3 separate regions of the Homo sapiens genome follow, and all the other regions are linked to region 1. The links come from fine-mapping of genetic effects on gene expression. A gene starts in region 1. Each other region holds a variant in brackets. All regions are shown on one strand. Distances are from middle to middle. Region 1 holds the start of TRPV3 (transient receptor potential cation channel subfamily V member 3). Region 2 overlaps TRPV3 (transient receptor potential cation channel subfamily V member 3). Region 3 overlaps TRPV3 (transient receptor potential cation channel subfamily V member 3).

What was found.
Region 2: its variant is fine-mapped to the expression of TRPV3 in whole blood (TOPMed, PIP above 0.99).
Region 3: its variant is fine-mapped to the expression of TRPV3 in adrenal gland (GTEx, PIP above 0.99).

Annotation. Positions count from the first base shown.
Region 1 is chr17:3,556,694-3,559,425 of GRCh38, reverse strand. It overlaps TRPV3 (transient receptor potential cation channel subfamily V member 3), which reads left to right and starts at 1,614. Exons shown (of 18, transcript NM_145068.4): 1 at 1,614-1,750. RefSeq lists enhancers at 106-165, 236-295, 1-597, 506-735, 766-815 and 2 more and a silencer at 2,596-2,655.
Region 2 is chr17:3,532,339-3,535,103 of GRCh38, reverse strand. TRPV3 (transient receptor potential cation channel subfamily V member 3) reads left to right here. Exons shown (of 18, transcript NM_145068.4): 8 at 2,167-2,447. Among named protein-coding and RNA genes, the nearest start is that of TRPV3, 24 kb to the left of the region's middle. The variant A/G (reference allele first, on the strand shown) is at 1,582.
Region 3 is chr17:3,511,661-3,514,425 of GRCh38, reverse strand. It overlaps TRPV3 (transient receptor potential cation channel subfamily V member 3), which reads left to right. Exons shown (of 18, transcript NM_145068.4): 18 at 415-2,765. The coding sequence ends at 509. It also overlaps a transcript of SPATA22 not described here. Among named protein-coding and RNA genes, the nearest start is that of ASPA, 37 kb to the right of the region's middle. The variant T/G (reference allele first, on the strand shown) is at 1,411.

The DNA of each region.
Region 1 (2,732 bases):
TAGACCATCTAAGGGGCTGAAGCTGCTGCTTCTGTGTGTTTGGGGTGGGATTAGGATGGGCTCGGGCTTCCTAAGTAGTGACTGTGACTCCACTGGGTGACCTGGCTCCTGCTGCCTCTCATAGCAGAGCGGGGGTCCCCTTCTTCCTTGCTGGGCACAGGGCACACCTCTGGGTGGGAGACAGGGGCCTTTTTCACCAGCTCCCACCTGCCCTCTGAGAAAAGTTATGAACACGAGCAAAATGGAAGCACTGACATTTGGCAGCAGCTTCCTCCCCAGGCGTCTGAGCCGCCAGAGGCAAACAGGGAGGGCGCGGGGCTGGGTCGGGAGAGGGTGAGTAAGCTAGTGGCCGGAGGCCGTGCTCAACCCCAGATCGGGCTTTTCCGGTCGAGTTTCAGGCACAGTCATGAGATTTCAGATTGTGAGTGGGAACTTCAGGACCCCCTGACTTCAACGGCAGAAGCGGTCTCCTGCTTCACCCACACCCTCAAGTCTGGTCTGCCCCTTACCGGCCATAGGTCCTGCTCTCCCGTGGCCTAGAAGCCTCACCTGCCTCCTGCCTCCTCCCCAGGCCAGGCAGGTTGTGATGATGAGGGATTGAGAGGCTCACAGCTGGGGATTTCCCTGCCCATCAGGCGCCAGCTGCGGCCGCGTCAGCAGAGACTTCCTGCTCTGTCCCAGCTGTGTCTTGTCCACATCTCGCCCCGGGGAGCAGGTGTGCAGTTCCTGAGTGACGCGAGACACACACGGCCATCCTGACTCACTCCACCCACTTCACAGCTGCAGCCTGGGCCAGGAGAGAGGGCACCGATTCCTTCTATGACGCCCTGGCCTTGGAGAAGGGCAACCTGGGCAGTTGCTGGGAGAATACATTGAGATGACAAAAGCAATCATAGCTAAGAGCTGACATTGTTTATTGAGTTCTTGCCGTGCCCTGGGCCTTGTTCTGGCCCTTTCTACTTGTACTTGTTGAAGCCCCACGATAACCTTGCAAAGTGGGTTTATGAAGCACGTTTCACAGATGAGGAGACTGAGGCTCGGAGAAATGACCTGCTAAGGTCATTCAGCCAGGAAGGGGTGAGGCTGACACTAAGGGCCATGATGCGTGACTGCTGGTGGACAGCATTAAATGGGGACTTCCGTCCCCGAGAGACCTGATCCCAGGAACCGACTTTTGAGAACAAGTGCCGAGTCTTGGGGCTGGCCACCCTGAGGTCAACCAGGCTAGGCCTGGGCTGCGGTCTTCCCTCCCAGGGGACAGAGCAGAGCGCTTGACTCTTCACTAGGCCCTCCCACCTCTGTGATCTCTTTGGCTCTTCACGGCTCCCTTGGAAAGTAGATGTTATCATTCCCATTTCCTAGTTGGAAAAATAGGCCTGAGATGGGCAGTCCCTGCCCAGCATGGAATGCCAGAGAGGGAGGAGTTGGACCCACAACTTCGATCTTGGCACCTGCGGCCTCCCCTGCCTTTTCTCCGGTGGGGATGAGGCTGCTGTGTGGGTGTGGGGGTGACTCACACGGGCCACGTGGGTGGGCGGGTGCTGCAGCTGTGGCTGGTGGGCGTGGCCTGCCTGGCGCCGAGGGCAGGTGGCTCAGCCAGTTCTGCCTCTGACGCCTCATTCCAGCCATCCCTCTGCCTGCAATGAGAGCTTCCCGCCGCCTCAGCCACAGTCCCACCCGGGGGCCTTGGGCCCCAGACATGCGGTGATCTCAGGGCAAGGGTTGCCACGACCACCCAGAACCTCACCAGGTGAGTCTTCTGTGCACAAGGCAGCTGGTGATCTCCAAGGCCCCTGGGGAGCCCAGAGCGTGGCCCTCAGAGGTCCTCTGGGCCATGTCTGCCCTTGGCCAATAGGCCTTGGGAGGAGGGTTGGAAGGAGCTTGGGCCCCAGCCAGGGGCCCACTCTTGGCTGTAGGGAGGCACTCTTGGCTGCACTCTTGGCTGTAGGGATGTGTGAGAATATAGGTCCTTACAGACTCAGGAACATTCCCCTGAGGTTTGGGAATCCTGGGGAGGGACATCTCAATCTCACCACTGCTGGGGGCAGAGGAGAGGCTCCTGCCTCCCGAGGCTGACCCAGGGAGGTGGCTTTCTGGGGCAGGATTGTGATGGGAGTTCAGGATGGGAGGAGGTGGCCCCACCGTGGGAGACAGACGGGGCCCAGGCATCTCACAGGTGCTGAGTCAGCAGCTGTGGCTCCGCGGCCTGGTCTGTCGCCCGGGAAAGGCCATTTCAATCAGTGTCAGGGATTGGGAGAGAGAGGGAGGGCCAGGGCAACAAGAGAGTCCAGCAGGTGAGAACGTGGGGTTTACGGGGTGACTCAGGGAGCTAATGATAGCTGCTGCGGCCCTAGTCCAGAGTTCCCTGAGCCTCTCCTGCCCCAGAGGCCCAGGGCAGGCCACATTCTCGGGCCCAGAGAAGAGAGAGAGCAACCAGCTCTCAGGGCCACAGAGTCCTTGGGGACCATTCAGCCCACTTCTCAGAAAGGAAACCAGAGGCCCTGGGAGGGGCAAGAGACGTGCCCTTCTTCTGTCTCCTTCACGCTCGGTGCATCCCAGCCTTTTAGTCCACCAAAGGCCACGTGGGGATGGGGAAAGCCATAGAGGCTGCCCATCCTCATCAGGCCGTGACTGGACACGGGAGGGCCGGGTGCCCAGGAGTCCCTCTCTGTGGGCTACTCCACCTGCCTGGCCTCAAGGTTGCCTACGCTCCAGGGCCAAAGCTCTCCCTC
Region 2 (2,765 bases), 24 kb after region 1:
ACACTGTCCCTGCCTTAAGAAGCTCTGGTGCCCCAGAGGGGCAGGAGGGGAGGAGGCTGGGCATGTCCATCTGAGCAGGACACCAGGGTGGACCAGAGAAGGAGGGGCTGGGAGGAGGTGTTGGGGGAGGAGTCCATGTTCCGGTGGTGTCACCTGGTGGTCTTAGAAGCATTGTCCTGGGTAGCTCTCTGAGGGAACAGAGACCTGGGAGGGAGGCTGAGGAGGCAGCCCCATTTTACAGGCGAGGAGATGGCTCTGTGAAGGGAAAGGACTTGCCCCAGGGTAGCAGGGCATTGACTTAGGTGTCCTGGCCTCCAGCTCTGACCTCTGTGCCAGGGCCCAGTGCATCTCAGGACTGCAGACAGGGAGTCGAGAGTGAGAGGGCAGAACTCCCCTGCCTCACAAGTCACAGAGTCCAGAAGCAATTGGGGTTAGGATGCTCTAGGAAAAAAAAAAAAAATTGAAATGCATAATTTAGATATAGTGAAAGTCACCCGTGTTAGAGGACAGTTCTGTTCATTTTCACAGTGCGTCGAGTTGGTTCACCACCACTGCAGTCAGAACAGGGAACAAATGGCTCCGTCACACACAAAAATTTCTCTGTGTAACTTTGTTGCAGAGGAGACCCCTCCTGCCACCCAGTCTTGCCTGACTGATGATCACCCATCTGTTTTCTCTTCTGGGTGTTATTTTTTTTATTTTTATTTTTTTAATGGAGTCTCACTCTGTTGCCCAGGCTGCTGGAGTGCAGTGGTGCCATCTGGCTCACTGCAGCCTCTGCCTCCTGGGTTCAAGCGATTCTCATGCTGCAGCCTCCTGAGTAGCTGGGACTATCTTCTGGGTGGTTTTTTAATCAGCAGGACTAGCTAGTCTGTGCTCTGGGCAGCCCTGCGTGTCCAGGTGTGGGTGTCCTGGAAAACGGGGTCTTGTCCAGTTCATCGTGTGTCCCCATTGCCCTGCATAGGAGCTGGTTGGACCTGGTGTTGGGAAGCATTTGTTGGGTGGGGCGAGGAGAGGGGAGGCAGCTGAAGACCTGGTGTCCGGAGCTGGTCGTGTCCCAGGCTTGCTGTGTGACCTCATGTGAGTCACTTGCCTTATTTTTTCTTAACAAGCATTTATTGAGCACTTACTGTCTACATCAGGCACTGTTCTAGGTACTTGAAATGTATCAGTGAACAAAATAGAGATCCTTGCCCTCATGGAACTTACATTCTAGACAGGGAGAGACCATCGGTAATAAGCACTATAAATAAGAATTTTATATACTATGATATGAAATGATAAGTGCTCTTAAAAAATACAAAGTAGACCGAGTGCAGTGACTCACATCTGTAATCCCAGCACTTTGGGAGGCCAAGGCAGGTGGATCACGAGGTCAGGAGTTCAAGACCATCCTGGCCAACATGGGGAAACCCCATCACTACTAAAAATACAAAAATTAGCCGGGCGTGGTGGCGGGCGCCTGTAGTCCCAGCTACTCAGGAGGCTGAGGCAGGAGAATAGCTTGAACCCGGGAGGCAGAGGTTGCAGTGAGGCGAGATCGCACCACTGCACTCCAGCCTGGCGACAGAGTAGGACTCC[A/G]TCTCAAAAAAAAAAAAAAAAGTAAAGCAGAGGACAAGGAACCAAGAGTTCTGTCTGGGACAAGAGGAGGGTGGATTTTAATTTTAAATAGAGTGGTTAGGGTGGCTCACTGAAAGGTGACATTTGAGCAAGGACTTGAAGGAGGTGAGGGAGAAAGTGACTGGGCTATCTACAGGCAGAGGGGACAGCCGAGCGAAGGCCCCCAGGCGGCGTGTTGGAGGAGGTGGAAAAAGGCCGTTGTAGCAGGAGGGAGTGAGTGATGGAGAGAGGAGGTCAGAGTATGCAGGGCTTTGTGGGCTGTCATTGGAACCTGTGCTTTCATTCTGGGGGAGGCACTAACAGGTTGGTCTGGCTGCTGTGCTGAGCAGAGTATTAAAGGGCCAGGGTGGAGGCAGGGAGGCCAGTTAGGAGGCTACCGCAGTGATCTAGCTTCACTCTTCCCCGTAGAAGCGGAAGATGGGGAGAGGGCTAGGGAACCTGAGGTGCCCATCCTGCTGAGATAGGATATGGGCCCCAGTCCTGGGGCTTGGGGGACGCTGCTTCCGGCCCATGAGAGAACCAAGCTTCAGTGCGCTCATCCCCCAGGTGAGACGCCCCTGGCCCTGGCAGCATGCACCAACCAGCCCGAGATTGTGCAGCTGCTGATGGAGCACGAGCAGACGGACATCACCTCGCGGGACTCACGAGGCAACAACATCCTTCACGCCCTGGTGACCGTGGCCGAGGACTTCAAGACGCAGAATGACTTTGTGAAGCGCATGTACGACATGATCCTACTGCGGAGTGGCAACTGGGAGCTGGAGACCACTCGCAACAACGATGGCCTCACGCCGCTGCAGCTGGCCGCCAAGATGGGCAAGGCGGAGGTGGGGCCATGGGGCGTGGGGAGGCAGGAGGTCGGGAGGTCAGGAGGTACAGCTGCCACCCTCTCAGCCCCGGGGGCCTTACTGGGGATTCACAAACCACAGCCTCAGCCTTGAGAAGGTCCCAGCCTTGGGTCCAGAACTGCAGTGGCGTGGCGGCCGGAGGCAGGTTTGTTCTGAGGGGCCACGCGGAGCTGGTGCGATGCAGCCCACTCTCTAGACTTCAGTCCCTAATACGCCGCGTTTCCATCTCTTGTCCTGGGAGGGCTAGGCTGGGGGAGCCTGAGGCTGAGGTGACACAATAGCCCCAGCAGTGGGTGG
Region 3 (2,765 bases), 45 kb after region 1:
CAACTTTTAAAATGGCGTAGCCCTAAGCCATAGAAACACATCATGCAGGCCGGGCGCGGTGGCTCGTGCCTGTAATCCCAGCACTTTGGGAGGACGAGTCGGGTGAATCACCTGAGGTCAGGAGTTTGAGACCAGCCTGGCCAACATGGTGACACCTTGTCTCTACTAAAGATACAAAAATTAGCCGAACGTGGTGGCAGGTGCCTATAATCCCAGCTACTCGAGAGGCTGAGTCAGGAGAATTGCTTGAACCTGGGAGGTGGAGGTTGCAGTGAGCTGAGATCACACCACTGCACTGCAGCCTGGGTGACAAGAGGGAAACTCCATCTCAAAAAAGAAAAAAAAGAAAAAGAAAAAAGAAACACACTATGCAGAGTGATATATTTCTAAAATATATATTTTTTTAAAAAGCAGATTTCAACAAAATCCAAGATTCTTCCAGGAACAACAGCAAAACCACTCTCAATGCATTTGAAGAAGTCGAGGAATTCCCGGAAACCTCGGTGTAGAAGCGGAACCCAGAGCTGGTGTGCGCGTGCGCTGTCTGGCGCTGCAGGCGGAGTCACCGACTCTGTGCAGAGAGGCTTTGAGGGATGGTGGAGTCCGGCTCTGCTGGCCTAGAAGCAGAGTGCACCCTCGTGCTCAGTGCTCAGTGGGTGTCTGAACTGAGGGGCAGTTGTCAATTTGTCTGAGTGGGAAACATCCTGGATTTTGTTACTTGGCAAACAGCTGGTGTAAACCTACAGCCAGCAGCAGTCTGGAGCCTGGGAGCCTCCTGAAGTCCCGGGTGAAGCCTCTGGTTTTACCAATTGCAGGTCGGCTTGGCTGGGAGAGATGGATGGCGGGAAAGGGGCAGCAGTCTTGAGGAGCAGGGAGAGGAGTCTTTCCTCCTGCCAGCTTCCCCCGTCAGCCCCAACCCCAGCCCACACATTGTACCATCTCTTCTGCTGTGACTGGGTTGCCTGAATTTGTGGGAGACCCGTGATCCCATCCCAGAGTGTGCGGGGGACGGAGGTAAGCTGGATATCCTGGGGGAGGAGGGGAATGCGCTCTGGAAACACCCTTCCGGAACCCTTCGGGGAAAAGGAGACCATCCTTGGAGTGAACGTCCCCTGACACCCCAAGGTTCAAACTGTCTCAAGCTGAGAGATGTTTTTAGTAGCAGAATTAACACAGGGTTTTAACTTGCAATACGGAAAAGACATTTCAGTTGAGAATGAAAATTACTACAATGAAGTTTGTGATTTTAAAAGTGGAGACAGACTGGGGGCTTTGGGGCTGGATGTAAGTATTATATATTTGGCCTCAGGGTGCCCAGAGCAAGACAAAAAGCTTTTCTTCACACACACAAAAGTCTGCATGAGACACTCCGGGCAAGTCCTGCTGGGCCGCCGCGATCTGGGTGAAAGG[T/G]CCTGGCTCTTTTCCTCGTCCTGACCTCACAGTAGCGCGTGCCTGTGTGCTGGGATCGTGGCTTTCGCTGAAGCAGAAATAGCAGCTGCTCGATCGATATCATCTTGGAACTCAGCAGTTAGTCGCATACCTCAGTATGTCTCAGTGGGGGAATTTAACAAAATGCCTCAACTGCTTTGGTACGAAGTATTTTTTTTTTAATTTTAACTGTGAATTTTGAAGCTGAAGGGGAAGCTTGTGAGAGAAAAGCATTTGCCAAGACTTTGAGCTTATTTTTAGGTCCTCGTCCTCTGATGTTCTCTTTCTGAAATGACACGGAGTCAGTCTGGGGGGCAGAGGTGAAGTGGAGACGGAAGGATTTTCCAGGTGACTGGGGCCGAAACCACCAGAAAATCCACTCTGCCGCCGTTATCTGGTGAAAGGATTCATGTAAAAATGTTCGAGGTGGAATTATAAAAATAGTAACCATAAATGTTAATCTTAAATGGCAGAAATAGAAATTTGGCCTTCAGATAACATGGCGATAGATAAGTTCATCTGGCTTGAGGCAAACTGAAGAGTCGGGGCCTAGCAGTGCACTCTGGGCCAGTTTCTCTGCCCTGGGCCACTCTGTGTGCCAGACTAGCTGGACAGATAGAGACTTTGTGCCCCTGATGGGGCCGATTGGGGAGAGGTGGGCTGGGGTGTGTGAGGCTTCACAATCCACAGCAGCCCCTGCCCTCCCAGCTGACCCAGGGAGTAATCGCGTGCTCTAAGCCACAGTGGTCGGGGCTGGGCATGGGCCTCTGGAGAAGAGAAGATTTGAGGAGAACTGTCCTAGAGGCAGGAGGAGCAGATGTGTTTCAGAATGGGCAGAATTAGGAAATTGAGAAAGATTTTGGCTCAACAGAATCCAGCAACTGCTCCAGATGTTGGAGATGTTTAAGCAGAAGCTGGTTGCGCACTTAATGAGGAATGTTGTTGAAAATGGTCATTGGAAGAAGTTTAAGGTCCCTTTTAGCCTGGAGATTGTACAAATCAGCATTCCACATCTGGAGTTAGCTACCCGCATTAAGCCTGAACAGACATCTTGGTCTGAAAGGAAGTGGTTTGGATTCATGATGCCAAGCTCCACACTATGGAGCTGGGAATTCCAGAATTGCTTTGACTCAGATATTAATGGAGAAAGTCATATCCATTAATGGATAAAGCCGTATCTGTTATGGATAAAGCCGTATCCAGAGTTGCTTTGACTCGGATGTTAATGGATAAAGCCAATTATTGATTTCTATTTGCCTAACCTGCCAGCTTTTGTCCAAGTGGGGAATGGAGAGCCATAGGGATGTTTGTCATCTCACATGTTTTGGTGATCTGCT